Linked DNA regions of Homo sapiens: all the other regions are reported to be linked to region 6. Evidence: microRNA targets listed by miRTarBase, many of them from high-throughput screens and not tested one by one. Region 6 holds a microRNA gene; each other region holds the end of a gene's coding sequence.

Region 1 (5,214 bases), not on the chromosome of region 6:
CTCGCTGGAGAACATCCCCGAGAAGTGGGTCCCCGAGGTGAAGCACTTCTGTCCCAATGTGCCCATCATCCTGGTGGCCAACAAAAAAGACCTGCGCAGCGACGAGCATGTCCGCACAGAGCTGGCCCGCATGAAGCAGGAACCCGTGCGCACGGATGACGGCCGCGCCATGGCCGTGCGCATCCAAGCCTACGACTACCTCGAGTGCTCTGCCAAGACCAAGGAAGGCGTGCGCGAGGTCTTCGAGACGGCCACGCGCGCCGCGCTGCAGAAGCGCTACGGCTCCCAGAACGGCTGCATCAACTGCTGCAAGGTGCTATGAGGGCCGCGCCCGTCGCGCCTGCCCCTGCCGGCACGGCTCCCCCTCCTGGACCAGTCCCCCGCGAGCCCGGAGAAGGGGAGACCCGTGTCCCACAAGGACCCCACCGGCCTGCCTGGCATCTGTCTGCTGACGCCTCTGGCTTGCGCCAGGACTTGGCGTGGGCACCGGGCGCCCCCATCCCAGTGTCTGTGTGCGTCCAGCTGTGTTGCACAGGCCTGGGCTCCCCACTGAGTGCCAAGGGTCCCCTGAGCATGCTTTTCTGAAGAGCCGGGCCTCAGAGTGTGTGGCTGTGTGTCTGTTCGACTCCCCTCGCCCCATTTTCACCCCACCCCCGCCTCTGATCCCCGGGGGCGAGATTGGCGCGGGAGTGTGGCCGCGCCCCATCAGATGTTCGCCCTTCACCAGCGGGAGCTTGATATCCCTTGTCTGTAACATAGACCCCGGGTACTGCGGGAGGGGAGGGCTGCTGGGGAGGATGGGGGGATGTTATATAAATATAGATATAATTTTATTTTCGGAGCTAAGATGGTGTTATTTAAGGGTGGTGATGGGTGAGCGCTCTGGCCCAGGCTGGGCCAGACTCCCGCCCAAGCATGAACAGGACTTGACCATCTTTCCAACCCCTGGGGAAGACATTTGCAACTGACTTGGGGAGGACACAGCTTCAGCACAGCCTCTCCTGCGGGCCAGCCCGCTGCGAACCCTCCACCAGCTACCGGAGGGAGGAGGGAGGATGCGCTGTGGGGTTGTTTTTGCCATAAGCGAACTTTGTGCCTGTCCTAGAAGTGAAAATTGTTCAGTCCAAGAAACTGATGTTATTTGATTTATTTAAAGGCTAAAATTTGTTTTTTTATTCTTTGCACAATTGTTTCATTGTTTGACACTTAATGCACTCGTCATTTGCATACGACAGTAGCATTCTGACCACACTTGTACGCTGTAACCTCATCTACTTCTGATGTTTTTAAAAAATGACTTTTAACAAGGAGAGGGAAAAGAAACCCACTAAATTTTGCTTTGTTTCCTTGAAGAATGTGGCAACACTGTTTTGTGATTTTATTTGTGCAGGTCATGCACACAGTTTTGATAAAGGGCAGTAACAAGTATTGGGGCCTATTTTTTTTTTTTCCACAAGGCATTCTCTAAAGCTATGTGAAATTTTCTCTGCACCTCTGTACAGAGAATACACCTGCCCCTGTATATCCTTTTTTCCCCTCCCCTCCCTCCCAGTGGTACTTCTACTAAATTGTTGTCTTGTTTTTTATTTTTTAAATAAACTGACAAATGACAAAATGGTGAGCTTATGATGTTTACATAAAAGTTCTATAAGCTGTGTATACAGTTTTTTATGTAAAATATTAAAAGACTATGATGATGACATTTATAAAATGGCTCTTGTGGTTTAATAGTGTGTAAAAATACCCTTGTGAATTTGGAACAAGGGAGATATTCTCCTAGGCGAGATCCTTTCTTGCCAACTCCGTTTCCCTTATAGCAAATGTAGTAAATGAGGATGAAGTCCCTTTGAGAGCATGTGGGGGTTGGGTGACCAAGGGAGACCAGGTTGTTCCTGTCACATTCCTAGAGGAAGATGAGTGGATACCCCGACACCCAGTGCAAAAACTTTTGACCTATTATGTACTCAGTTCAATTGGGTGAGACCGAAGATCTTGATTTCATTCATCTGTGTGTCTTAAAAACACTTGTGTCTTTAAGTCTATTATGGGGCTTTGCTTATTCTTTGAGTCTTGGAAAGTTATCATTTGTGCATTTTAAATTTAGAAAACCTTTATTAATCGTTGGTGTGGGGTCACGCTATCAGGAAGCCTGTTTACTGGGTTCCCTTCAGGCCATCAAGGGGTTTACACAATATCCCAGGAAGTTGTAGGTTGTTATCTTTGGGCCTGGAGCTTCCAGAAGTGGGGGAGTTCAGATAAAGAGGTGATTTTTTAAAATTATCAAGCTTTGATCCCAATATGTCCTTTATTAAGTAACCTAGAATGATTTATTCTAAGTTCAGAGAAGGGCCATATTGTGGAAAGAACATTGGATGTTTTGGTGGTTCTTAAAGTTGGAGCTGCCACTTTTTGAGAGTCATGATAAACTCTAATCGTAGACACTTAGCTTTGCTGTAATGGTTCTTAGAACCAGACGGGCTGATTTATAGGTGGAGACCACATTAAAATTCTGCTGCAGGCATGATGGTTCAAACCTGCCAGCTCTCGCAGCTTCCAGGGAAGGTAGCTGAGAGTGTCAACTGCCTGAGAAGTGTGGTTTTCATTTTTTTTGAATCAGCATTTTCTGGGTTTCTAGCACTTAGTTGCCACCTTCTCCTTCCCCCTCCTCCCCATTCCCAGGACAAAGGTGGAGGTCTCCTTTGAAGTTGTTTGCTTCAAAGCTTGAGGCTTCTGTTTCCTGGTCTTACCCCAGACTCCAAGAGCTTTTGTTGAGTGAATAAAACCTGGTTGGTGGTGACCTTTCACCCACTTAAATGCTGGCAGTAACTGGACCTCCTGCTCAGCTGGGTGGGTGCATTGACTAACAGAAGGGGATTGTCTGGGCTCCTCCAGGAGCAGAGGGGAGAGGGGTCTATCCAGGCTGCCTGCTTTGAGCAACTGCCTAACTCCTTCCTCAGTCCCTCGGCCCCACTCACCTCCAGACTGCAGTCTCCTTTTTCATTTTAAAGACAAAACTTCCCATCGACAAACAGCATGTTTATTTGCAGCTTTTACAGCTAGCAAATCCTTTGGTACCAGGGAGCGCAGGACCCAGTGGGGGAAGAGTTCAGGCTTGGGCTGAATGCCCAGGACTCAGCTTTGCAACCAGCCAAGAGCCTGGAGGCCCAACTCCCTGAAAGGGCCTTTTCTGGGTTGCTCTGATCTGCCTGGTACCCATAACTGTCTGTGTTTTATATTATGGGCAGACAAACACTCAGATGACGCATGGCAGCCCAAGTTATGCTTGTTTGAAAATGCGTGGCATTTCATAATCCTGCCGGAACACACTCTTCTTGCTGCATTAGGATCCAACTGGAAAACATAAAGATGAATTGCTGTAGGCTGGAAAATCAATTAGGAAAAAGAGGTAAAACATCTGGTGTTACTCTTAGAATATGAAAATTCATTTTGCACATTTAAAATAAATGTGTTGAGTTGATTTAATTGCCTGTTGAACTGTTTCGTGGAAAATACTGGGAAGTTGCATTGATCCTGGGCATTTTGCAGTAAGGGGCATTGTCTTGAGTTCTCCTTTAATCTTAATCTTTAATCAATCTGGATTGTATTTCTAAGGTCTTTTTCACGTGAGTTTCAGTAGACTTGGAACTTCAGTTTTCAAAGTCAAGTGTGTATTAGAATTACACGGAGGGCTGGTTAAAACACAGATGGCTGGGCCTAACCCCACAGTTTCTGATCCAGTAGGTCTGGGCTAGGGCTTAAGAATTTGAATTTGTAGCAAGGTTCTAAGTGATGACAAGCTGCTGGTTGGGACCACACTTTGAGAACTACTGGCTTCGAATAAGGGAGAGTCCTTGTCAGTGTACAGAGTAGGGAGGTGGTTTCCTATGAAAATAGATTAAATTCCACAGACTTATGGTGCTATGCCCTGCAGTCTTGACTTCCTTACACAACGGAGTACATAGCTTCCAGAGAGCTTTCCTTCTAAGATAAGCCACACATAACTCCTATCTTCTCTTCCCTACATTCTTCTGCAAAAATGGGTTTAATGCCCTTCTAGAGATTCATTTCTTTCTTTCCTTTTTAAGAGACAGGGTCTTGCTCTGTCGCCCAGGCTGGAGTGCAGTGGTGCCATCATAGCTCACTGAAGCCTCAACCTCCTGGGCTCAAGCAATCCTCCCACCTCAGTCTCCTGAGTAGGTGGGACTACAGGTGTGCCCAGCTAACTTTTAAATTTTTTTTTGTAGAGACAAAGTCTTGCTATTTTGCCCAGGATGGTCTCGAACTCCAGGGCTCAAGCAGTCCTGTTATATCCTCCTCCGAAAGTGTTGGGATTACAGGTATGAGCCACCAGGCCCCAACCTATTTCTGCCATTCCTGAATTCAGAATGCAACAGCACTCTAATTTAATCAGCGTTGGCACCTACTTTGTGAACTCTGATGAGGTGGGAATACAAAAGCAATAAAACACAGTCCTCCCCCTCCAGGAGCTCATTCACAGCCTGGTGGCCCCCTGGCAGTTGCAAGAAGGCATCCACCAAGACCACAATTATAGCATGATGTAATGGAGGCATTAGGCAAGGGCACGACAGGAGCCTAGGGCACAGGTACCTATTTTTGCCCGGGAAGATGGGGAAGGTGTCATGGAGGAGGAATCATTTGAGCTAAATCTTAAGCAGGAGTGGGTGATGTGTAGGTGGAAAAAATCTTGGGGGTGGGGTGGGGAGGGAGATAATTGGGCCATTGGCACATCGAGGATACATACAGCTTCTTTATGTTACTGTAGGGCCTCGCCTCTGGGAATAAAGCTGTCTTGGGTGAGAACTACTTTCTACTTTTAGTCCCTCTAGCGTATATTTCTTCAGTCAAGAAGAGTGGTATTACCTAGCCAAGTAAAACACAGCCTCTCCTCTTCGCTCCCTGTTCACAAAACAAGGAGCATCTATCTGGCAGGCCAGGAGAGGGGGTTGGTGATGAAGATTTCATTGTTTCCTCTGTGCCTTCCAGGGATGTGATTCAGACACAGGACTAGCTTTGTGATCCCTGTGCTCCGGAGAAACCTCCACCCTGGCCTCAAGGAGGCTGTGAAACCAAAAGGGACCTTGGGTGCCAGCTTGCTGGGTCCTTACTTACTTGGTCCATCTTCTGGCTGGAAGGAGCACCTGGGCTCTCAGAGTGCCCCCCGACTCTCAGCAGCTCCTTTTCTGGCCCAAGAGG
Region 2 (4,000 bases), not on the chromosome of region 6:
CTATACCATAAGGGACCTTGCATGTCCATGTTTGGTTACCCGAGCCTGCACATCCAAATGCCACAAGCTCCCACCTACACAAAGAGCCATTGGTCATCATTTGGGCCTAGGCTGCATACACTACTGGAGAGGTCAGCCCTTGAGAGAACAGTCATCAGGCAAAACCAGCGCACATTCCTGCAACCGGCTTGGGGCCATTTGACCAGCAAACTTTGTGATTCTGGGTAACCAAAGAATGTTCTAGAAGGAATAGTGCAGGACTAGGTGGGCACATTCTCTAAGTCCACCAACTCTTCGTGTTCTCTAAGTCCACCAACTCTTCTGACCCTCTAAGACTCAGAACTCCTCTCGCCTGGGTCTATGGAAGATACTTCCATGAAGTGTTGGGATCTCTTTAAAAAGCTTTTAAATCCTTGCCACAAAAAGAAGCCGTGATTATTTGAAATATCATTTGCATGTATGTCACCTCTCCTTGAATGTAGAGCTACACCTCCGCTCCTGCCTTCCTCATTACTGTGTCCCTGACACCACAGAAGAGGCTGTCTCTCAAGTACACTCAGCCTCCTTCCCCTACAGCTACCTGCCACCTGCACCTTTCCTTACCCCCTTTCCCCCTTGGCTCTGGCTGAGTTCTGTGGGATCTTGGTTACAGGTGCAAAGCAACAGTGAGGAGGAGCAGAGTCAGAGTCGCTGGCCCAGCAGACCCAGGCACCCCCACCACCACCAGACTTTTGCTGGCAAAGACTCGTGAAGTAAGTGGGCCTCTCTCAGGCAGTTCTCAAACCTGGCTGCACATTGTAATCAAATGAGGAAGGTTTTTTTTTTTTAAACCCATAATAAAGGGTCCCACATTCTGTAATTCTGATTTAATTGGAAACCAATGACTAATTATTTTAAGCTTCCAGGTAATTCTATTATGGCTGGAAAATACCTCTCTAGATCAATGATGCCCAGGCTTTGGCAGGCATCACAATCACCTGGAGGGCTTGTTAAAATACAAATGACCAGATCCCAGCTCCCAGAGTGTCTGATTGAATTGGCCTGGATAGAACCAAAGAATTTGCATTTCTAAGAAGTTCTCAGGTGATGCTATTGCTGCTGGTCTGGTAATCACAGTCTGAGAACTGCTGTTCCAGGAGACATTGTGTAGAACTTTAATATTCAAACTGTAGTGTACAGATACAAGGAGCATCAGCATCCCCTGGGATTTTGTTAGAAATGTGGACTGTCAGCCCCCACCCCAGACCTAATGAATCACAGTTTTACCAAGATCTTTAGGTTAGATAATTGATTGCATATTGAAGTTTGAAACTCATTGTAGTAGAAGTTTTGTAACAGGTGAGGACCAGCCATGGAAATCAATATCCCAACACCTGCTTTCAGCTATGTTCTAATCAGCCCACATCATTGAACTCAGAGCAGACTCCTCAATGTACCTCACAGCTATGCTCATTTAGGGTCTGAGCTCCCTTCTGCAACTGTGGTCTGATGAAGGTAGCTCTCCCTCCCCTCCTCAAAGCAGGAAATGAATTTCACATTGTTATTTATTGCAGCTAAAATTTCTTTCCTCCAGATATGAGTTTTTCAGTATTAATTTTTTCAGAGATATCTCTTATACCTTTAAATAGTTTGGCCAGTAATTTATTATTTAAACTAATGAAAATTAATCTTTCTGTAGTTTTAACCACCTATCTGCTACAACCACAAAGAAAATGGCATAAGGGATAATGGTATTTTCCCCAGATAGTATAAATTAAAATCTTTATTGAATTAAGTAAATAAATCTTGCTTAGAGATTCCTTTATTTTGGATATCTTGGTACCATTTTCTACATTTTCTAGTCTAATTGTTTTCTTAGTTAATACTCCAAAATTTCAGTGGTACTTGCTCAGACACACAAAGATATTTACAATTCTAACTGTTTTAATTCTAATTCTCTGTGGTTTTAGGAATCTAATCACTCTTGTTTCTCTCTTACCTACTACCTACATCTCAGGGTATATGAATCATATGTATGTATTTAGTCACAAAAGAGGTAAATAGCAGAAGGCATCAATATGTCATATGCACTTCAAGAAGTTTCAGATGGTTTCAGTTGCTGGTCTGGCATGTTAGGAGCTAGAAGCGGCCACTCCACCCAAACAACAAGTAAAAACCTGAACAGACTGAAAAATTAGTAACCGTTCTAGACCCATCAGAGAAGTGGGTCACAGGGCAAACCACTTCTCCTCAAATTAGAGAAATAGGCAAATGCAAAGATTTATGACTTGTTAGAGCAAAAACCCCAAAGCATAAACTCCCCCAGGAATCAGAACCACGGTAGAGAACCCGGACAATAACCGAGGAATTACTGGATGCTCAGCATGGACCAGTCTGAGAAATAAAAACTCTAGGGAGACCCAGTCATTGGGAGGCCCCTTGTTTCTGGGAGTCTTACTTCTAGGAGCTCAACCATGTTCTCACAGGAAATACTGGAGAAAAATCCCCTAGTGTTTCCCGCAGGGGGCGGGAGAAAGGAACCATTTTGAAATGCAGCAGAGCATTCTATTCCTCTTAACAAAGTCTTCCCTCGGGAGAAACTAGATACCAAAAACCTAACCGGATGAGGTTTTATCAGAGACTAACCGACCTGAAGGAAGGGAAACACCCAACTCCTGCCTACTCTAGCCATCCCGTCCCATTAAAGGGGACAGAGAGGATGAGAAGCACAGGTGAGAGTCACAATCCAGAGGCACAGTCTCACTGGAAGACTGAGACCTAACCATAAGACCATGGAACGCTTCCCTTCTCCCTAAACCTTACCACCACATTACTAAAAGCCTATTTACATCAATTTCTTTTACTCAGTACATCGCGTCCAGTTGTAAAAAAAAGACATAGTAAAAGGCAAAAACAGGTTGAAGAAACAGAGAAAACGTTAAAACCAGTCTCAGATATGACAGGGATGTTAGGATTATCAAACTGGAAATTTAAAACAACTAAAATGATAAGGGCTCTAATGGATAAAGTAGTCTGTGCGCAAGAACAAATGAACAGAGAGATGGAAATCCTTAGAGTAAAAAAAATGCTAGAGATAAAAAATGGTGTCACAGAAATGAGGAATGCCTTTGATGGGCTTATTGGTGGACTGGACATGGCTGAGGAAAGAATCTCTGAGCTTGAGACTATAGCTATAAAAACCACCAAAACTGAAAAGCTAAGAGAAGACTGAAAAAAATATAAGAGAATATCCATGAAATGTGGGACAGTTACAAAAGGTGTAACATATGCATAATGGAAATTCCAGAAGGAGAAGAAAGAGAGAAAGAAATAAAAGAAATATCTGAAACAATAATAATTGAGAATTCCCCCAAATGAATGTCAGATACCAAACCACAGATCCAGAGAGCTCAGAGAACACCGAAAAGAATAAACACACGCACAAAAAAACGCAAAAATCTACACCTAAGCTTATAATTTTTAAACTACAGAAAATCACAAGTAAAGGGAAAAATCATAAAAGAAGCCAGAAGGAAAAAACACCTTACCTATAAAAAAACAAAGATAAGAATTACATGCAACTTCTCCTCAGAAAATGTGTAGTATATACTCCACAAGTAGGTTCTTGCCAAGAATTGAATTTACTCTAAAATGCAACACTTTGCTTAAGTGTTGTTTGTCCAGCAGATGTCAGCCTTGCACAAGAAAAAAAATGCCAAGATGTTCCACAAAGCAGGCTGTGTGCAGGATTTATATGGTTATACATTCCTGGGCAATCTATGCAATGCAATGCCCAGAACACAAGTTCCTCTCACAAACCTGTCCCAACTTTGTCTAAAGGTCAGTATTTTAAAATATCAGAATTGAATTGCTAGGGAGAAAGTATTGCTAGGAGTCATACATTTCAAGTACCTAACTAGATTCCATTTTCTGCCAGTGATGGGGCTTCATTACAGCAGGAGAGGCAATGGTTTAAAATGCTGTATTTTATTGATTCTAAGGCACACATTTTTCCACATTT
Region 3 (4,000 bases), not on the chromosome of region 6:
TGTGGACTATGGATCGATCTACGTCATTACGGATTAACGGCCTGGATTTATCATTGGGTTGGGGGGATGACGGGGGGTGGGAACAAGATGGATGGAAAGGGAGGGAAAGACAAGATGCAACTAGGAAGAGACACACCTGACCAGCCCCTCCCCCCAGGCTCAGGTGGGAGTTCAAACTGCTCCTCCCCTCCCCCATCTAGAGTCTAGACAGACGGCACAGGCCTAGGAGACTAGGAGGGAATCTGGAGGGGGCGCTGGAGGAGTGCGAAACGGGGGAAGGGAGCCGGCAGAATAGAGGGCATCCCGGTACTGGCTGGAGTCTGTGTTCGAGGGTCGACTAGGGGAGGGGGTCCTGGGCCCGGTGACCGCAGGCCTCAGCATCTCCACTCTGCGTAACAGGTTCCTCCTTTGGGCCCAGCGGCCGGCGAGGCCGCCAGACATACACACGTTACCAGACGCTGGAGCTGGAGAAGGAGTTTCACTACAATCGCTACCTGACGCGGCGGCGGCGCATCGAGATCGCGCACGCCCTGTGCCTGACGGAGAGGCAGATCAAGATATGGTTCCAGAACCGACGCATGAAGTGGAAAAAGGAGAGCAAACTGCTCAGCGCGTCTCAGCTCAGTGCCGAGGAGGAGGAAGAAAAACAGGCCGAGTGAAGGTGCTGGAAAGGGAGGGAGGACGCGAGGGGAAAGGCCTGTGGGGAGCCGAGGGCGTCAGAGAGACCCGGGAAGGAAGGCTCTCGGGTGGGGGAGCCAGGAGACCTGCTCTCCGGCGCAGACAGGCGGGGCCCAGCGCTCTCCTGGACGCCCCCGCCCGCACAGCTCCCGGCGGGTGCTCTGAGGCCTCACTACTCGAGCCCACCCAGCATCCCGCGCGCCCTTCCTTCCCGAGGAACTCGCCTCAGCCTGATCAGGCTTCCTGGTGAGAACTGAGGAGCGGACTCACTTGATGTTTCCTGGAAGCAGAGCAAAATGCTCTTGTCCCTGTCGCGTCTCATTTTGTCCATGTCCCCCGTGCACGGTTCAATGGTAGATTCGCTGTCCCCTCAGCGGGGGCCTTGAAGACTCCCTGATCCCAGACCTGTCGTCTCTCCCACCCCCTCCCCAAAGCCACTGGAAGGAGCACATACTACCTAGAAGTAAGAAGAGGAGCCTCAGAAGAAAACAAAGTTCTATTTTATTAATTTTCTATGTGTTGTGTTTGTAGTCTTGTCTTAGCTCTGGACGTGAAATACTTCGATGATGATGATGATGATGATGATGATAATAATAATAATAATAACAACAACAACAACAATAATAAAGATGTGAAAACTCGACGCTCGGTCACCTCCAATCCTCCCCTGCCATTTTTTCCTCTCTCCTCAACCCCCAGCCTCTCCATCTTTCCTGAGCCAGAATTCTTCAGCAAAGGCGAGAGCCCTGGCCCGCCGAAGCGAGCCCTGTTCGACTGGGAAGTTACAGCTGAGATAAAGGCTGGAGCGATCAGTCCTGCCCAGGCCCCAGCGCTGCGTTTCCCTGGTGCTGAGGCTCACAGCCGCTTCTCCCCGTGCAGACTTGGGGGATGGAGAGGTGCTGTGTCCCTCTCATTCTCTAGCCTTTCCTCGTGTATACACAGCACTAAGGGAGCCACTGAGGCCCCTAAAGCTCTCTGGCGGAGACGGAGCCATAGTCTGGGGGCCTCTGCAGCGCTTTTCTGTCCTCACCTTCGCAGCGACCCCTGGTCTTTGGCCCGTCCACATGGCCAGGTTTTTTCGCCAGCCTTGGCCCTCCGCTCCTGGCCTGTGGCTCTGGAGACTGAAAAATGGGGCCACTGGGTATCTCTCACCCTGCAGCTGAAGGCTCCAGGTGCCCCTTCCCACCTCAAGTAGCAGATCAGCCTCAAGTAGGAGATCAGCCTCAAGTAGGGGAATGTAAAGCCACCAGCCAGGCACAGGCCGAAGGCCACAACTTTCCCTTGCTCCTTGGAGACCCCAGGGCAGGAGGCCAGGTGATGGGGCTTTTAGTGTCATCCTCTCAACCCAGAATGGCTCATTCTCTCTCTGCTTGCACCGGCACCCAGAAGGCAAGCTGCGGTCACTGTTTTCCTTTATTCCTCCGCCCTCTCGCTTCCTTTCTTATTTTTAAAGAAAATAGTCCCCTCCTAATAGGAGACCAGCTGCGGCGGTCTCTGGCCGCCCAGCGTGCTCAGCAAAGCATGCGGGTCCTTGGAACCCCTTTTCCGGGAAGGCGGCTGCCACCAGGCAAATTCTCAAACTGCCTAGCTGCGAGTGAGGGACCTGTAGTGGGGCCTCCGAATGCAATAGCCGAGGAGGAGGGGAAGGGATCCCGCTTTACAAACTCTCAGACACATGTTACTACTCAAACTAAGCAGCAGACGCGGTGGCCGCTGCAGTCTTTTCGGCAACTAGGCCGCTTAGCCCCAGCTGTGCTCGGTTTCTGGGGTCCCTGTCCTGCTCTGTCACTCCCCACGCCTGGGCTAAGGACCACCAAGGAGGTCCGGAAGGGGATTTCGAACTTCCAAGTGGCCCAGGAGAAGTGAACGCTTCTCCTTCTTTTTCAAGCCTCCCGCCCAGCCCTGCCGGCTCGGCCTGGGCGCTGTGGACCGGTAACAGCAGTTCCACCAGGATGCAGGCCGGACTAAGCTCCTGGGGAAAACCCGTTGCAATAATTGTTTTTCACACACAACTTCCAACCCTTCCCCCATTTCCGCCTCCAATTCGGAGACTTGCAAAGCCCAAGAAAGGGAAAAGCAACTCTATCTTTGATCTTCTCATCCAAAGTTAAAATAATAACGACAATGATGATGTAGGGAGAAAGAACCAAATAGAGAGGCTAACCCCACCCACAAGAAAGTGGGTAAAAAGCCCAACCCCTGCTCTAAAAGGCTCAACCCTGTGGCTGAGCCTTGGCCGGGTTTCTTTCTCTCCCGGCGACTGCAGGGAGCCTGCAGGGAGCCAGCAGGGAGGCAGCCGCCCGCCGCCATGGCGGTCTCACGCCCGCGCTCCCGTCGGTCGCCGGGAGGTGGCGCGCTCTGCTCAGAGGCCAAAGCCAACCTTCTCTCTGTTTCTCCCCCTTCTCCTTTTTTCCCCCTCTCTCGGAGGCTCGCATTGAATCGGCCCTAACGATTCTCGGATCGTCATTATTTGTAACCATAGAGCATGAATTACCTCTTGAGGTCATCAGCGAGAATTTACGACTGGTCAACAAAAGCACGTGATTCCCTAACGCCCCCCACCCCCCTTCCAACCCCCCCCCCATATTTGGCCGCATACATAGCAAAACGAAGTACAGTGCATCGCTATAATTCATTAATACATCATAAATCGTGAAGCACAGGGTTATAACGACCACGATCCACAAATCAAGCCCTCCAAAATCACCCAAATGAGCTCGTACTTTGTAAACTCCTTCTCGGGGCGTTATCCAAATGGCCCGGACTATCAGTTGCTAAATTATGGCAGTGGCAGCTCTCTGAGCGGCTCTTACAGGGATCCCGCTGCCATGCACACCGGCTCTTACGGCTACAATTACAATGGGATGGACCTCAGCGTCAACCGCTCCTCGGCCTCCTCCAGCCACTTTGGGGCGGTGGGCGAGAGCTCGCGCGCCTTCCCCGCGCCCGCCCAGGAGCCCCGCTTCAGGCAAGCGGCTTCGAGCTGCTCCCTGTCCTCGCCCGAGTCCCTGCCCTGCACCAACGGCGACAGCCACGGCGCCAAGCCCTCTGCTTCGTCCCCCTCCGACCAGGCGACCTCAGCCAGCTCCAGCGCCAATTTCACCGAAATAGACGAGGCCAGCGCGTCCTCGGAGCCTGAGGAAGCGGCAAGCCAGCTAAGCAGCCCCAGCCTAGCTCGGGCGCAGCCAGAGCCCATGGCCACCTCCACAGCCGCGCCCGAGGGGCAGACTCCGCAAATATTCCCCTGGATGAGGAAGCTTCACATCAGCCATGGTAATTCTCTCTCTCTTTTTTGTCTTCTCGGCTTTCCTTCTCTGCGTTT
Region 4 (5,237 bases), not on the chromosome of region 6:
AGCGAAGTGTATGCACCTGCCCTGTGCCCACACTGGTGACCTTCTGTGTCCACAGGGAAGCGGATTTGTCTTGGTGAAGGCATCGCCCGTGCGGAATTGTTCCTCTTCTTCACCACCATCCTCCAGAACTTCTCCATGGCCAGCCCCGTGGCCCCAGAAGACATCGATCTGACACCCCAGGAGTGTGGTGTGGGCAAAATACCCCCAACATACCAGATCCGCTTCCTGCCCCGCTGAAGGGGCTGAGGGAAGGGGGTCAAAGGATTCCAGGGTCATTCAGTGTCCCCGCCTCTGTAGACAATGGCTCTGACTCCCCGCAACTTCCTGCCTCTGAGAGACCTGCTACAAGCCAGCTTCCTTCCCCTCCATGGCACCAGTTGTCTGAGGTCACATTGCAAGTGAGTGCAGGAGTGAGATTATCGAAAATTATAATATACAAAATCATATATATATATATGTTCTTGTTTTTTGAGACAGAGTCTCACACTGTTGCCCAGGCTGGAGTGCAGTGGCGTGATCTCGGCTCACTGCAACCTCCACCCCCGGGGATCAAGCAACTCTCCTGCCTCAGCCTCCCTAGTAGCTGGGATTACAGGCATGCACTACCACGCTTGGCTAATTTTTGTATTTTTAGTAGAGATGGGGTTTCACTGTGTAGGCCAGGCTGGTCTCGAACTCCTGAACTCAAGTGATTCACCCACCTTAGCCTCCCAAAGTGCTGGGATTACAGGCGTGAGTCACCGTGCCCAGCCATGTATATATATAATTTTAAAAATTAAGCTGAAATTCACATAACATAAAATTAGCTGTTTTAAAGTGTAAAATTTAGTGGCGTGTGGTTCATTCACAAAGCTGTACAACCACCACCATCTAGTTCCAAACATTTTCTTTTTTTCTGAGATGGAGTCTCACTCTGTCACCCAGGTTCGAGTTCAGTGGTGCCATCTCTGTCCACTGCAACCTCCACATCCTGGGTTCAAGTGATTCTCCTGCCTCAGCCTCTGGAGGAGCTGGTATCACAGGCGTCCCCCACCACGCCTGGCTAAATTTTGTATTTTTAGGTGGTCTTGAACTCCTGATGTCAGGTGATTCTCCTAGCTCCAAATGTTTTCATTATCTCTCCCCCAACAAAACCCATACCTATCAAGCTGTCACTCCCCATACCCCATTCTCTTTTTCATCTCGGCCCCTGTCAATCTGGTTTTTGTCACTATGGACTTACCAATTCTGAATATTTCCCATAAACAGAATCATACAATATTTGATTTTTTTTTTTTTTTTGAAACTAAGCCTTGCTCTGTCTCCCAGGCTGGAGTGCTATGGTGCAATTTTTGTTCACTGCAACCTCTGCCTTCCAAGATCAAGAGATTCTCCAGTCTCAGCTCCCAAGTAGCTGGGATTACAGGCATGTACTACCATGCCTGGCTAATTTTCTTGTAGTTTTAGTAGGGACATGTTGGCCAGGCTGGTGGTGAGCTCCTGGCCTCAGGTGATCCACCCACCTCAGTGTTCCAAAGTGCTGATATTACAGGCATAATATGTGATCTTTTGTGTCTGGTTGCTTTCATGTTGAATGCTATTTTTGAGGTTCATGCCTGTTGTAGACCACAGTCACACACTGCTGTAGTCTTCCCCAGTCCTCATTCCCAGCTGCCTCTTCCTACTGCTTCCGTCTATCAAAAAGCCCCCTTGGCCCAGGTTCCCTGAGCTGTGGGATTCTGCACTGGTGCTTTGGATTCCCTGATATGTTCCTTCAAATCTGCTGAGAATTAAATAAACATCTCTAAAGCCTGACCTCCCCACGTCAAGAGGTGATCTGTGCCATTTTGTGTGTGATTCTTTTATTGTCGGGTCTCTAGGGATTTTTCTGGAAGGAATGTTGGTGAGAATGCCTCTCTCACCTCAATGCCAACTCTGTGAAGGGCCAAACCATTGTCTTGCTCATCCCTGTACTCTCAACACAGCGTGTGGCATATGACAGGTGTTCAAAATATTTGGTGAGGAATGAATGAATGAGTGGCTAAATCAGCCACCCCCTACCCCCACAGCCCACCCAAAATGGAGCTAGGCCTCCTCCATCAGACTATATCTCCTCCATATCCCACTTTCTTGTGAGGTCCAGAATAAATTCTCATCCCCAAAGGGCCCAGGATGCCCCCATTCTGCCTACCAGTTACTCTCGATACCCCGTGCTGCAATGCCACCTTTTGATAAAGCTTAGCGCTATTCTTGCAGTGGAACCACTCTAAATCCAGCCTCCAGGCTGGACGCGGTGGCTCATGCCTATAATCCCAGCACTTTGGGAGGCCGACGCGGGTGGATCACTTCAAGTCAGGGGTTCGAGACCAGCCTGACCAACATACAAAAACCGTGTTTCAACTAAAAAAGATACAACAATTACCCGGGCATGGTGGTGTGCATCTGTAGTCCCATCTACTCGGGAGGCTGAGACAGGGTGATCGCTTGAATGCAGGAGGGAGAGGTTGCAGTGAGCCAAGTTCCCGCCACTGCACTCCAGCCTGGGTGACAAAGTGAGACTCCGTTTCATAAATAAATAAATAAATAAATCCAGCCTCCAAACATTCCACCAGCAGGACCACCACCCTTCCCTGAGGGAGGTGCTGCAAGTTTAATATCATTATCACAAGGATACATCAGCCAGCCTGTGGCCAGTGGGAAGCTGGCCCTGGGACTCCACCCTGAGATGCTAACCTTTTGGCGTCTGCAGCATCTGCCATCTTTGGGCTCCTTGTAGCCTCTGAAGAGTTAACAGAGACTCTGCCAGTACAAATGCATGGCACACATTCCCTCACCAACCACAGAAATAACAAACAGAGCAACATGTCTTTTAAGAGCGACAGCAGAATGGAAGGCGGGAAGAATGAGGACCACGGTGCCCTCAGCCTTCTCACTCCTCATTGTCCCCAGTGGCCTCTTGCTACTCTGGTTCTGGGGCCATCCCACCTCCCAGGGCTGCCTCTCTCCTAGGCCCTGGCCTCTGCCCTTCCTGGGGGAGCATTTTGCAAATAAACCACAGGGCTTTCTGAAGTCTGTCCAGGTGGTGAGATGGGAGAGTGTGGAAGGGATGGAAAAGGAGGAGGTGGGTAGACGGGAAACAGCTCACAGGCAGCAAGGCAGTTGGGGTCGTACTTTGGGTGGGATTCCACAGACAAGCTTGGGAATTCCTTTCTGGCTTATATATTAACTACAGAAGCTTCTGGAATTTTATAAGGTGAAATGGAGAGGAGACAGACTGGAGGGTGAAATTCTGATAGACTTGAGGCTTTGAGATGTGGTCCTGGGGTGGAGCAAGACAAGAAAAGTACTGGAGATTGGGGTTTGAGGAGTCTATGCAATTATTTTTATTTTTAAAAATCTTTGTGGCTACATAGCAGGTGTATATATTTATGTGGTAAGTGAGATATTTCGATACAGACATACAATGTATAATCACAGGCATACAATGTAGACAGGCATAAAGTGTATAGTCACATATAATAATAACATCATGGTAAATGGGGTAACCATCACCTCAAGCACTCATCATTTCTTTGTGTTACATTAGAGTTATATTCCCTCTGTTATGCTAAAATGTACCACAGGCTGGGCACAGTGGTTCATGCCTATAATCCCAGTATTTTGGGAGGCTGAGGCAGACAGATTGCCTGAGCTGAGGAGTTCGAAACCACCCTGGGCAACATGGTGAAACCCTGTCTCTACAAAAATACAAAAAAAAATTAGCCAGGCATGGTGGCATGCATCTGTAATCCCAGCTACTCTGGAGGCTGAAGCGGGAGAATTGCTTGAGCCTGGTAGGTGGAGTTTGCAGTAAGCCAAGATTGTGCCACTGCAGTCCCGCTTGGGTGACAGAGTGAGACTCCATCTCAAAAAAATAAACAAGCAAACAAACAAAAGTACAATGAATTATTGCTGACGGCCATCACCTTATTGTGCTATCAAAAACTAGATCTTATTCATTGTATCGAACTCTATTTTTGTACCCATTAGCCATCCCCAGTCCCTCACCTCCACCCTTCCCAGTCTCTGGTAACCATCATTCTACTCTATCTCCATGAGTTAAATTGTCATAATTTTTAGCTCCCACGAATGAGTGAGAATGTGCAAAGTTTGCCTTTCCGTGCCTGGCTTATTTCACCTAACATAATGTCCTGCAGTTCCATCCATGTTGCTGCAAATAGCAGGATATCATTCTTTTTTAATGGTTGAATAGTACTCCCTTCTGTATGGGCACCATATGAACACTTAGGTTGATTCCATAACTTGGCTCTTGCAAACAGAGCTGCAAAATACACTGGAGTGCAGATATCTCTTCAGTATACGGATTTCCTTTTTTTTGATATAGATTTAGCGGTGGGATTGCTGGATTGTGTGGTAGCTCTATTTTTAGTGGTTTTCTTTCTTTTTGTTTGTTTATTTTATTTCTTTATTCATTTTTTTTGAGATGGAGTCTTACTCTGTCACCCAGGCTGGAGTGCAGTGGTATGATCTCAGCTCACTGCAGCCTCCACCTCCTGGGTTCAAGCGATTCTCCTGCCTCAGCATCCTGAGTAGCTGGGACTACAGGCACCTGCCGACACGCTTGGATGATTTTTGTAATTTTAGTAGAGATGGAGTTTCACCACGTTGGCCAGGCTGGTCTTGAACTCCTGACCTCAGATGACTCGCCCACCTCAGCCTCCCAAAGTGCTGGGATTACAGGCATGAGCCACCGCACCTGGCCTATTCTACTTTTTTTTTTCTTTTTCTTAGGGAAACTCCATGTTGTTCCTCAAAGTGGCTCTATTAATTTACATTACCACCAACAGTGTACAAGGGTTCCATGGGGATTACTTCAGATTGAGTGGTCAGAGAGGGCTCCTTTGAGAAGACTTCTGAGAATTGGCCATGGGAAGGTGTGGGGAGAAGCCTTCTCAGCTGAGGGAACAGCAAGGTCAAAGACCCAGAGGTAAGAAAGCAAGCTTGGAACCTTCCAGGAGCAACAAGGCATTGGCTCTGATAATGCCTTCTCCTGCTAAAATGACAGCTCTAGGAAGGCAGGGTTCTTATTTCCTGTCTATCTATCTATCTATCTATCTATCTATCTATCTATCTATCTATCATCTATCTATCTATCATATATCTATCTATCCGTCTGTCTTTATTTATTTATAGAGGCAGAGTCTTGCTCTATTGTCCATTGTATTAGTCCATTTTCATGCTGCTGATAAAGACATACC
Region 5 (5,478 bases), not on the chromosome of region 6:
CCCAAAGTGCTGGGATTACAGGCGTGAGCCACTGCATCCGGCTGTCTATCTTATTTTTAAAAGGGCTGCCCTCAAACTATCTCACTACCACCAGAGCCTCCTTAATTAGCAAAACATTAAATTACTTGAGGTCCAGCACTCTCAGGGTGCCTATTATGGTCACATATAAATTAGGAGAAAAACAAAAAGCAGAGCTTTCATTTGTTTTTATCTGACTTCATTATTTTTATCTGACTTCAAAATGTGTTTTGTATTCTTGAGTTCTCCCAAGTTCTAGATCTTTATTCTTAACTGACTCTGGATATTTTAAACTCCATCTCCACTCTTGTAAAATCTGATCAATATTTAGTTTATTCCACCTTGTTTTCCTATTCTCAAAAGTCCTTTCAATCTTTCAATATTCAGCTCAATGGTCACCTCTTCTAATGCTGCTCTAGACTTCTTTGTAGTTCTCTTACTGCATTAGTCATATTCTACCATAGCATTTGCAACCTTGCACACCACTTCTAGCTAAAGCACTTGGAGGAGTTTCCTGATCAATCATGCTCCCTCCCATTTTCATGCCTCTGCATGTTCTGTTTCATCAAGCTAGAAGGCCTTTATCCCCATTCTTGCATTTTCATACCATGGAAGTTACCAAACGACTGCAAATGTTTAAATACACTTTTTGTTTTCATACTTTTAAAGATACATTTTTATATACCCTCTATTTCTAACATAGTTCTTAATATATATGTGATGAATAAATTGATGAGGCTTGAATGTATAACTTGCCTAAGATCCTAAGATAAAGATCAACACAGTTGATCTTTGTAAAATGGCACGTTCACTTTGAAAAACAATTTGGTAGTTCTTCAAAATGTTGAACATAGTTTCCATAGGACCCAGCAAGTCAACTCCTAGATGTATACTCAAGGGAAATAAAATCATATGTCCACACAAAAAACTTGTATACAAGTGTTCAGAGCAGCATTTCAGAATACCTAAAAAGTGGAAACAACCAAAATATCTATCAATTGAATGGATAAACAAAATGTGGTATATTCATATGATGGATTATTATTTAGTAATAAAAAGGAATGAAGTATTCATACGTGTTACAACATGCATGAACTCTCAAAATATTTTGCTAAGTGAAAGAAGCCACATACAATAGGTCACATGTTGTATGGTTCCATTTATATGAAATGTCCAGAATAGGCATGGAGACAAAAAGCATATAGTGGTTTCCAGGAGTTGTGGGGAGGAGGTAGTGGGAAGTGATCACTAATGGTTACAGGATTTCTTTTGGGAGTTATAAAATATTCTGTAATTAGTGAGTGGTTATTGTTGCACAACTCTGTGAATATAGTAAAAACCACTTAATTGTATACTTTTTCAGAGTGAATTATATCTCAATAAAGCTATTATTAGCAAATGAACACAATAATGAAAATTCTCTATTTGTTCCAGATTTTTCATCAGGGGCTTAATCTTTGGAAATCAGAAAACAACTCTGCCTGCCTAGGACTTCCTGATCGTACATATTAATTGTACAATTATGAAATGTCAAAGGATCATTCTAAATTAACCCTTTTATCACCTTGTTGGTGAGAAAACTGAGCTCCAAGAAGCATAAATGACTTAAATAAGGTTATATAACTAGCTAGTAGAACCAAGGAAGAGTCTCATTCCAATGATTCATCTTTATTTGTCGATTTTGACATTTTTCTAAATCCCAAGGTTTTTTATGATTTAAAGAAAAAAATTAAAAAGTAAAAAGAAAAGCCTATTTATCTTTCATATTAACTCCAATAATTATTTCTAGATTTGTGGGAAATACAGGAAAAAAAAAAGGCTAAGAGAATAAACAACTGCACCTTTCTGCTCCTGTGAATGAGAAAAGACAACTATTAGTACTTAAAGGTTTTACTCTTTAAAAACAATACAGCATAAGCACTCATAGTAGTAGTTACAGCAACATGGACCACTCTTTCCTCCTAGGGGATAGAAGATAATCAGACACTTAGCAAAGATGCTATTAGTATCTGGGAATTTGCCCCCAACTTTCAGAAAGACACTAAATTTAATCCATAGGAAAACATCTTTCAGAGTATTAGTTTCTAAAGTTTCCCTTTCAGCCCTACTTTTTGCAGCCTTTTTCACAGCCAATGGCAGATACAGGTGCAATAAGTAATTTCTGTGGTACTTATTCACTTGGGAGATTTTGGTGATAGTAAAACATTTTCTTTGAAAGTCATGTTTGTTCTTTTCACCAAACAGCAACTCTTAAAAGAATTTTCACTTATTTTTCCATGGAAAAACACTGAGGATATAATTTTTTTAAAAGAGCATTATTCAATGTTGACCTTCAAAAGCTGATTGTAAAATACCTCATCATATAATCTACAGCCAGAGAGTAACTCAGCAATTGTGTAGTCCAGCATTTCTACAACCTAGGTATCCACATGTACCTTAGGATGACATTGGCAGGTAGTGTGAGGAGCTAGGGGAATGGGGGGTGGTGGCAAGAATAACAAATAGTGGTACATGCTAAATTTAGTTTAGAAAATTCTGGGTTAATTCGATAAATATTTAAGGAACATCAATTACATGCCAGGCTGTCTACTAGATGCAGAGTAAGACAGATTTATACCAGAATTTTCTTAAAGCCTCGAACAAGCTACTGTTCACAATGAGCACAGTGACCATATATCCTAATTTGCTGTAGACAGCCCCAGTTTACAGGCGCTATTCCAGCATTAATATCATCTCTTTTTACCTCTATAATCCTACATATGACTCTCTAAGAGGTGTGTGTGTGTGTGTGTGTGTGTGTGTGTGTGTGTGTATGTGTGTAGCAAACAGATTTTCCTAAACTTAGATGGCCAATTACATACTTATACCTACATTCCTACGATTATCTCCTAAAACAGTGATCTTGGTCCACAGAACATAGTTTGGGGTCTACTACATTCTTATCATTTGATAGCTGAGGAAACAAAGGATCTGAGAATTAAATAGACTCAGCTAGAAAACGGCAGACATGGGATACTAAAGCCTAGGACTCCTGGCTCATAGAGATAGCTCTAATGCCCTTTCTGATATATCACAGACTGTGATACTAAAGCACCCTTAACATGATGTTAACAAGTTCTACTACAAAAATAAGTCAGCAAGTTTCACATTTTAATTTCATTTTAAAGGAAGTTCATTTTGTTCTTTTTCAATCATAACTGTAAAATTAATCAAAAACAGAGTCAATGAGAAAATATTATCTTTTAGGCAACTCTTCAAGACTATAAGCCCAGTTCACTTATTCCTACACTCTCCTTTCCCTCCCCTCACTCTCTATTAAATATAAAGTAGCTGATTTCTTTATGTCTTTATAGTATCATTGGCTTCACAGGTGTGTGCTGGGGTGGGGGAGGAGAAGTTAATTCTATCCATCAATCAACAACATTTTCAGTGTCTACCACAAAGCGTTCTGCTATAATATTTTACTCACATTGTGGTTCCAAGTGTTTTTTTTTTTAAAGTGAGGATACTATAATAGTGCCTTGGGCCATATGGTACTTACACAAATTCCAAGCAGTCAAATTACAATATAATTCCATTATTATTTTTAGGTTTCTATAAGCTTACTAACAGAGGCCATTTTCTGATTCTGGTTGCACCAAAAGGTATGGCCCTAGAAAAAAAATCATGCAAAGAATTTTATCTTTAAAAATTAGTTATTCAAATTTTTGATCATCCATGGCACTGATATTTCTAGCTAACTGCTATGCATTTTAAGCAACTTACACAGTTCTTCCAGAGAAAAAGGAGTGAATGATCATATAGTCTTTAAAAAGAAAGCCTATGAGCTAAGAAATAGAATAGCCTGTTCTGAAAAAGGAAAAAGTAGAAAATGTTAGTGAAAACAGGGTTTAAACCCTTAGGAAATTCATTTCTGTATAGGATATCATTTTGTTCATCACCAAGAAAAGGTAGTCAATATTAATTAAATCTTACACAGGCAAGATAACCAGTTAAGTAGATGAGAAGAAAATTGCAAGGTGAGTAAGGCAAAAAAAACATTTCTAGAAAGGAACTATTCTTGGATTTGCAGATGGAATATGAGGTGTACATGTAACAGAATATCCTTGTCACATATTGGAAGTTGTGATTGTGTGACAGAGCTCTAATGTTTGTAACACAGCAGACTCTTCTGTAATAATTATTTTAAAAGGCTTGCCTATGATAATTTACCATTTGAAGTAATGAACTTATTCAAGTATAACTATTGTACTTAGTTATAATCCCATTTTTTTTAAAAAAAGGAATACAGATATTGATCACATCAAACATTTTCATTGAGAAATTGACACGGACACTAATGAGGTTTATCATGGATGGTCTCAGAAGCTTTCCTGTGTATGTGAAGCAGAACTACAGGCCTTTTTGTATAAGTTCCTGTACATCTTGTCCATGCTGTTCTCAAAGATGGGTCGGTGGGATTTTCCCTTATAAGAGGCTGCCCTGTTGGACCAGTATTCACCGTCATCCAAATGGAAAGTGCCACGTGGCTGCTGACATGAGCTATAAAAAGGGATATAAAAGGTTCAAAACAATAATGAAACAAAATTAGAGATAGTACTATGTAAATCAAATATTTATTGAGTACTCTATGGCTATTTAATTCTCTGCTGGGGCTGTGAAAAATAAAACAGAGTAAGGCCTGTGCTTTCAAAGAGGGACATTTTAAAAGGGGAGGCAGAAGTATCTGTGTAAAACTGTTATAAAACAGTAAAATGAAAATTTTGTGTTAGAGTGAAAAAGGAATTCAGAGAACAGACACAGGTACAGCATAATAAAAGCAGAACATAATAAAAGCAGTTCTTATACTGGCCTGGTATGGCCAGTATAAGAATGCACAGCCCAAGGCACAGTGGCTCACGCCTATAATCCCAGCACTTTGGGAGGCTGAGACGAGCAAATCACCTGAGGTCGGGAGTTCGAGACTAGCCAGACCAACATGGAGAAACCCCATATCTACTAAAAAATACAAAATTAGCTGAGGATGGTGGCGCTTGCCTATAATCCCAGCTACTCGGGAGGCTGAGGAAGAAGAATCACTTGAAACCGGGAGGCAGAGGTTGCAGTGAGCTGAGATCACGCCATTGCACCCCAGCCTGGACAACAAGAGCAAAACTCCGTCTCGGAAAAAAAAAAAAAAAAAAAAAGAATGCATAGTTGCTAAAAGTCAGGCATACCTGAAACTGAATTCCAGCTCAGTCCTTTATAAGCTGTGAGACCTTGGGCAATTTATTTAACTATCCAGAGTCTCAACTTCCTTAACTTTAGTTTTACAGGATTGTTTTAAAATTTAAACACAGACGTTATTAAATATGAGACACTAAACCAGGTACTTTATATCTATTTATGAATACATTTTACAACACATAGAAGTTGGTAGATATAGAAATGAAGACTCAGTGAAGTTAAGTGACTTGCCTA
Region 6 (5,478 bases):
CTGTAATCTCAGCACTTTAGGAGGTCAAAGCAGGAGGACCACTTGAACCCCAGAATTCGAGACCAGCCTGGGCAACATGGCAAACCAAATCTCTAAAAAACATTTAAAAAATTAGCTGGGTGTGGTGGTGCGTGCCTGTACTCCCAACTACTTGGGAGGCTGAGGAGGGAGGATTGCTTGAATCCTGGAGGTTGAGGCTGCAGTGAGCTATGATTGCGCCACTGCACTCCAGCCTGCACGACAGAGTGAGACCTGTCTCACAAAAAAAAAAAAGTTACTTAAAAGCTAAATTATTTTTAACTTGAAATGTTCCATGGACTTCACGAGTAAATGTTCTGGATTTGCCAAGCAGTTTTGATTTCAATTGGCCTGTCTCCTAATCATACACAGACTTACCTAACACAGATTCTGATTTTCAAGGGGTTAAGGGTGGATCAACCCAGAGTTAACCAACAGCAGGTCCTAAAATTCAGGTATGTCTGGCAGCAAACATCCTCTGTGGCATTTATAAACTCCTACTACCCAGGACGATCCACACCTGATTTACATTGGCTGCGGTCAATGCTGCTGTTTTCAGGAATATCCCTGGGTTGTTTCATTTCAAATCTACCTATTATTTCTTCAAGTGCTAGACCTGAAGAATTTTGGAAAATTAAGATCACTCCTAAGTTTCCACACCACCACGCAACTGGCAGCTAGCATCCCATTCTCTGAAATGCGGATGTTGTACAAATACTTTTTATAATAAGCTATCTGCTCAGCGAAAGTTTCCAACATTAGATGGCATGAAGGTCATAAGTAGCTCAAAAACCACTCTCTTAAAAGGAAAATAAGAACTCCTAAAACAGCCCTCCTCCCAAAAAAAAGGAAGTGGACCTTTCTGGGTTCCCTGGTTTACTAACTGGGCCTTTGGAGCTGTTCTCCTGACCAAGCCAACCCCATAACCACTCAAAAGGGATTTCCGTAGGTAGAACTTGCAAATGGTTAATGAATCAATGCCTTCTCCATAAAGCAAGACCCAAGGAATTACAGCAGTGAACAACGGTGGGGATACTGGATCCCCCAGAGGGTTCCATAAACGTTCTGCTTACAAGGAGGATTAAAGTTCTCGATGCCACTCTCTGGGACCCTGTCTTGATCCTCAGAATCTCAACCCTGTGGGGAGAGCAGGGTGGCTGTCTTACTACCAGACCCACTGATCAGAAAACGGAGGCTCCAGGAGGTATCTTGCTTGCCAAGAATCAAACCAGGGCCACCCAGTCCAGTCCTGTCTCCTTTTGTGCTGGCATCATTCTCCAGCTTGGCCAAGCTCAGAGGCAAGGCAAGGCAAGGCTGCAGCTTTAAGGGTTTAAGAGAGGAGACAGCCACTTTCATTGAAACAGCCCCAAACTCCTTATTAGTGGTCACCAGTTTACACAAGGGTAACTCGTTTTGAAAAACAATACGCAGAAAGTCGAAGTCAATCAAGCTCACTGAAACCTCTACTCTCCTCCCCCTGGCGCCCAAGAGACCTTGAACTCTTACCCAATTGCTCCCCCGATCTAAGGGTGTCCCGGCTCCCCCAGGAGATCCGGGTACCTGTGTTGTGGGGGCCGCCGAGACACCTGACTGCGAGGGGCACTGCCCTCAGGGATGCAGGCCGGGCTGGGGGGCTCCCGTGATCCATCGACTCAGCCCACCTGATGCTGCAGGGTTAGATTCGGGTCCCATGAGCATGCATCGAGCGCCTCTCACGTTAGGTACCCCCAGAATTCGCTGCCTCCCGAGGCCCATTCATCGTACAGATGGGGAAACTGAGGCTCGGAGAGTTAAAGTGGCTTAGCCCGTGGGGGGCGGCGGCGCGGGGACTGGACCCCGAGCCCTGAGATACCGAGCCCTAACCCTCAGCCGAGGGCCTGCCGGGCTCTCTCGGCCCAAGCTGTGGAAAAGTCGACCCTCAGGCCGCCGCGGGAGATCAGCTCTAGGGGAAGGGCGACGCGGAGGAGGGCCGGGGTGGGAGCCATGCCTTCCGCCCGAGCGTCGGGCCAGACGCGCAGTGCCCAGGCCCGAGGGCCCACCCCGACGCAGAGAGCCAGGCGGCCGCGGTGAACTGAGGCGCCCGGCAAACCCCGAGTCTTGGGGCCCGACCTCACCCACCCCGCCGTCGCCGCGAAAGATAGCACTCACCGCTGGCAGCCCGGCTGCTCTCTGCGGGCACCTGGGCAGGGCTCAGGCCCACACCACTGAGGCGCTACCACCGCCTTCGCCGGCCGCGGGGGTGGGGGCGTGGCCATTGGGCCGCCGCCCCGCCCACTCGAGCCGCGCGTGCATTCCCGGAGCCCCGCGCTTCCCCCTGCAAATTTGCGCTCTTGGTACGGCCCGGCCCGGCCACGCCCCCTCGCGGCTCGGCTGGGTCGCCCGGCAGAGAAATGAAAGTGCGTGGTTCCGGGGGTGGCGGAGTCGCCTGGAGACGGCGGCTGCGGCTTCTACAGCTCGGACCCTGCAGGTCACCGGGCCGGCTGCCCACCTTCCCGGGGATCACTGCAGAACTGTGGCTGTGCGCCCGCCGGTCTAGCCTCCTCCTTCGGGCCGCCGCTTGCTTGTGATCGCCACATTGTCTCCTCCACGGCCCTGTTTCCTCACCTGAAATTGGCGAGGCTTCAGGCCCAAGTCGTCTCCCTGGGTTCCCTCCATCCAGCCTGACGGCGGAGGGCGCGCGTTTGTTTTTAGAGACAGGGTCTCGTTCTGTCGCCCAGGCTGGATTGCAGTGGTGCAGTCACAGCTCACTGCAGCCTTCAACTCCTGTGCTCAGGCGATTCTCCCACTTCAGCCTCCCAGTAGCTGGGACTACAGGCGCGCCACCACACCTAGCTAATTTTATTTTATTTTATTTGCAGAGATGCGGTCTCGCTATGATGCCCAGGTTGGTCTCGAACTGGTCTCAAGTGATCCTCCCTCCTCGGCCTCTCAAAGCGCTGCGATTACAGGCGTGAGGTCCCACACGCTGCCTAGAGCTCGCTTTTGAAGGCCGGCCTGTTGGGGGTGGGAAGTGACCAAGCAGGAGGCAAGCCCTGGATGGAAGAGGAGTGGGGGGATACAGAGAGCTTCTGGGGTTTGAAAAGTCTGGCAGCCTTGGTTGGGGAGTGAAGCCCACCTCTGCCTCCTGCTATGGTTTCTACTTTACAGGGTCATGAAGATTAAGTGGTATAACCTTTGTTCCTAAAGGATTTAGAGCACGGCATTACTAAGTGTTCTCATCGCCATTGTTATTATTACTACTACTACTATTATTACTAGCTGTGCTGTGAATTCCTTTTGCAACACTGTGCAACTCACTTCTCTCAGAGCCCCTTCTCCATCTTTTAAAAATAGCCCAGGCACGGTGGCTCACGCCTGTAATCCCAGAACTTTGGTAGGCTGAGGTGGGCGGATCACCTGAGGTCAGGAGTTCGAGACCAGCCTGACCAACATGGCAAAACCCCGTCTCTACTAAAAATACAAAAATTAGCTGGGCATGGTGGCGGGTGCCTGTAATCCCACCTACTGGGGAGACTGAGGCAGGAGACCCACTTGAACCCCGGAGGCAGAGGTTGCAGTGAGCCCAGTTCACACCACTGCACTCCAGTGTGGCCGACAGAGTGACACTCCGTCTCACAAAAAAAAAAAAGTTAATTTATAAAATAATACATAAATATAACATTTATATATTATATAAATGTTATATTTGTTATATTTATATATTATATAAATAATATATATTATATAATAACATATATGTTACTTATTTTTTGAAACAGGGTCTCCCTTTGTCGCTGAGGCTGGGATGCAGCCTCGACCTCCTGGGCTCAGGTGATCCTCCTGCCTCAGCCTCCCTAGTAGCTGGAATTACAGGCATGCGCCACCACAACTGGCTAATTTTTGTATTTTTATTTTTCATTTTAAAGAAAGTTGATTGAAATTTTTTTGTAGAGATGGTGTTTTGCCATGTTTCCCAGGCTGGTCTCAAACTCCAGACCTCAAGCAGTCCTCCCACCTTGGCCTCCCAAAGTGCTGAGATTACAGGTGTGAGCACTGCACCTAGCCTAATTTTTAAATTTTTTGTAGAGACAGAGTCTCGCTATGTTGCCCAACCTGGTCTTGAACTCCTGGCCTCAAGGGATCCCTTGCCTCGGCCTCCCAAAGTGCAGGAATTACAGATGTGAGCCACCATTCCCATCCACTCTTCATCTTTAAAATATTGTGAAAATAGCAAAATCCTATATAAAGAGATTATTACCATGGCCCAGGTGCCAGGTTTCCTATGTCCAGGAACCAGTCCCTCCAACAGGTTGGATGAATGCAGTAGCCCTCAGGGTGGGGCACAATACCTGTCCAAAGAAGGGACTGAACTCCACACTCACCCAGAGAGAGAGCTGTGGAGAAATTCACCCAGATATCTGATACTCTGTGCCATCTTTTCAACACCCTGTTGGACATCTCCCCAGGATGTCCCAGTGAGGCTTCAAATTTGGACTTTGACTCCATGCCCCCTGCTTTTTTTGAAACCAGAACTCCTAAAACACTGAGTCTTCTCTGTCTGCTAATAATATAGCATCACTAAGGAAACATCAGGAAACAGGCATTTTACCTCTTTGGCCTTTTCCCATTGAACCAATAACTGGGTCCTATGGATTCTATCTCCAGAACCTCCTCTTGTCATCTTTTCTGCTGTCCCTGTTCCAGTTGGGGCCACGTGGGTTCACCGTTCACCTGGATGATCTCAGCAGCTTCCTGACTTTTTTGGGGGGGATGGAGTCTCACTGTGTCACCCAGGCTGCAGTGCAGGGGCACCATCTCAGCTCACTGCAACCTCTGCCTCCTGAGTTCAAGCGATTCTCCTGCCTCAGCTGCCTGAGTAGCTGGGATTACAGACTTGTGCCACCACACCCGGCTAATTTTTGTATTTCTAGTAGAGATGGGGTTTCACCATATTGGCCAGGCTGCTCTCGAACTCCTGACCTCAGGTGATCCATCTGCCTTGGCCTCCCAAAGTGCTGGGATTACAGGTGTGAGCCACCGCACCTAGCCGGCTTCCTGACTGTTTATGTCACTTCTCGTTTCTGCTACACCCACTGGCAAGGAAGCCTCTTTTTTTTTTTTTTTTTTTTTTTTTTTTTTTTGAGACAGGGTCTCACTCTGACACCCAGGCTGAAGTGTAGTGGTGAGATCTAGGCTCACTGCAACCTCCACCTCCTGGGTTCAAGCGATTCTCCTGCCTCAGCCTCCTGAGTAGCTGGGATCACAGGTGTGCACCACCACACCTGGCTAATTTTTGTATTTTTAGTAGAGACGGGGTTTTGCCATGTTGGCCAAGCTGGTCTCGAACTCCTGACCTCAGGTGATCCATCCTCCTCAGACTCCCAAAGTGCTGGGATTACAGGCGTGAGCCACCACACCGAGCTGAAAGCTTCTCTTCTTCAGTTACTGTCCTCCTCATTGTCCTACCTTCCTCTCCTTCCC

The links. The annotated mature microRNA hsa-miR-4651 reads CGGGGUGGGUGAGGUCGGGC and lies in region 6 at 2,121-2,140, opposite strand. An mRNA with a match to its seed (bases 2 to 7 or 8) in the 3' UTR can be bound and repressed. Matches are read on the target gene's strand: a 7mer-m8 pairs with bases 2 to 8, a 7mer-A1 pairs with bases 2 to 7 and ends in A, and an 8mer does both.
Region 1: the mRNA of RHOB is a reported target of hsa-miR-4651. Seed matches in the 3' UTR shown: 7mer-A1 at 644-650 and 7mer-m8 at 648-654.
Region 2: the mRNA of TESPA1 is a reported target of hsa-miR-4651. The part of its 3' UTR that is shown has no 7-base or 8-base seed match.
Region 3: miRTarBase lists HOXB6 as a target of hsa-miR-4651. Seed matches in the 3' UTR shown: 7mer-m8 at 1,096-1,102.
Region 4: miRTarBase lists CYP2B6 as a target of hsa-miR-4651. Seed matches in the 3' UTR shown: 7mer-m8 at 537-543.
Region 5: miRTarBase lists SPATA6 as a target of hsa-miR-4651. Seed matches in the 3' UTR shown: 8mer at 3,397-3,404 and 7mer-m8 at 2,498-2,504.

The regions. Positions count from the first base shown.
Region 1 is chr2:20,447,735-20,452,948 of GRCh38, forward strand. It overlaps RHOB (ras homolog family member B), which reads left to right. Exons shown (of 1, transcript NM_004040.4): 1 at 1-1,706. The coding sequence ends at 322. Among named protein-coding and RNA genes, the nearest start is that of RHOB, 3.3 kb to the left of the region's middle. RefSeq lists an enhancer at 2,467-3,028.
Region 2 is chr12:54,957,920-54,961,919 of GRCh38, reverse strand. TESPA1 (thymocyte expressed, positive selection associated 1) reads left to right here. Exons shown (of 11, transcript NM_001136030.3): 10 at 653-752. The coding sequence ends at 751. Among named protein-coding and RNA genes, the nearest start is that of TESPA1, 25 kb to the left of the region's middle. RefSeq lists an enhancer at 2,550-2,599.
Region 3 is chr17:48,593,072-48,597,071 of GRCh38, reverse strand. It overlaps HOXB6 (homeobox B6), which reads left to right. Exons shown (of 4, transcript NM_018952.5): 4 at 400-1,321. The coding sequence ends at 659. HOXB5 (homeobox B5) reads left to right here and starts at 3,293. Exons shown (of 2, transcript NM_002147.4): 1 at 3,293-3,951. The coding sequence starts at 3,390. The region is part of intron 1 of HOXB-AS3 (HOXB cluster antisense RNA 3); the gene reads right to left. RefSeq lists enhancers at 409-578, 636-1,307, 2,350-2,855, 3,085-3,154, 2,856-3,363 and a silencer at 3,620-3,669.
Region 4 is chr19:41,016,591-41,021,827 of GRCh38, forward strand. CYP2B6 (cytochrome P450 family 2 subfamily B member 6) reads left to right here. Exons shown (of 9, transcript NM_000767.5): 9 at 56-1,808. The coding sequence ends at 237. Among named protein-coding and RNA genes, the nearest start is that of CYP2B6, 28 kb to the left of the region's middle.
Region 5 is chr1:48,294,334-48,299,811 of GRCh38, forward strand. It overlaps SPATA6 (spermatogenesis associated 6), which reads right to left. Exons shown (of 13, transcript NM_019073.4): 13 at 1,040-4,560. The coding sequence ends at 4,380. Among named protein-coding and RNA genes, the nearest start is that of SLC5A9, 74 kb to the left of the region's middle.
Region 6 is chr7:75,911,868-75,917,345 of GRCh38, reverse strand. It overlaps MIR4651 (microRNA 4651), which reads right to left and starts at 2,149; the gene lies at 2,077-2,149. POR (cytochrome p450 oxidoreductase) reads right to left here and starts at 2,191. Exons shown (of 16, transcript NM_001395413.1): 1 at 2,167-2,191. LOC124901680 (a long non-coding RNA gene) reads right to left here and starts at 4,805. Exons shown (of 2, transcript XR_007060393.1): 1 at 4,607-4,805; 2 at 2,852-3,050. RefSeq lists a silencer at 1,984-2,473 and an enhancer at 2,734-2,783.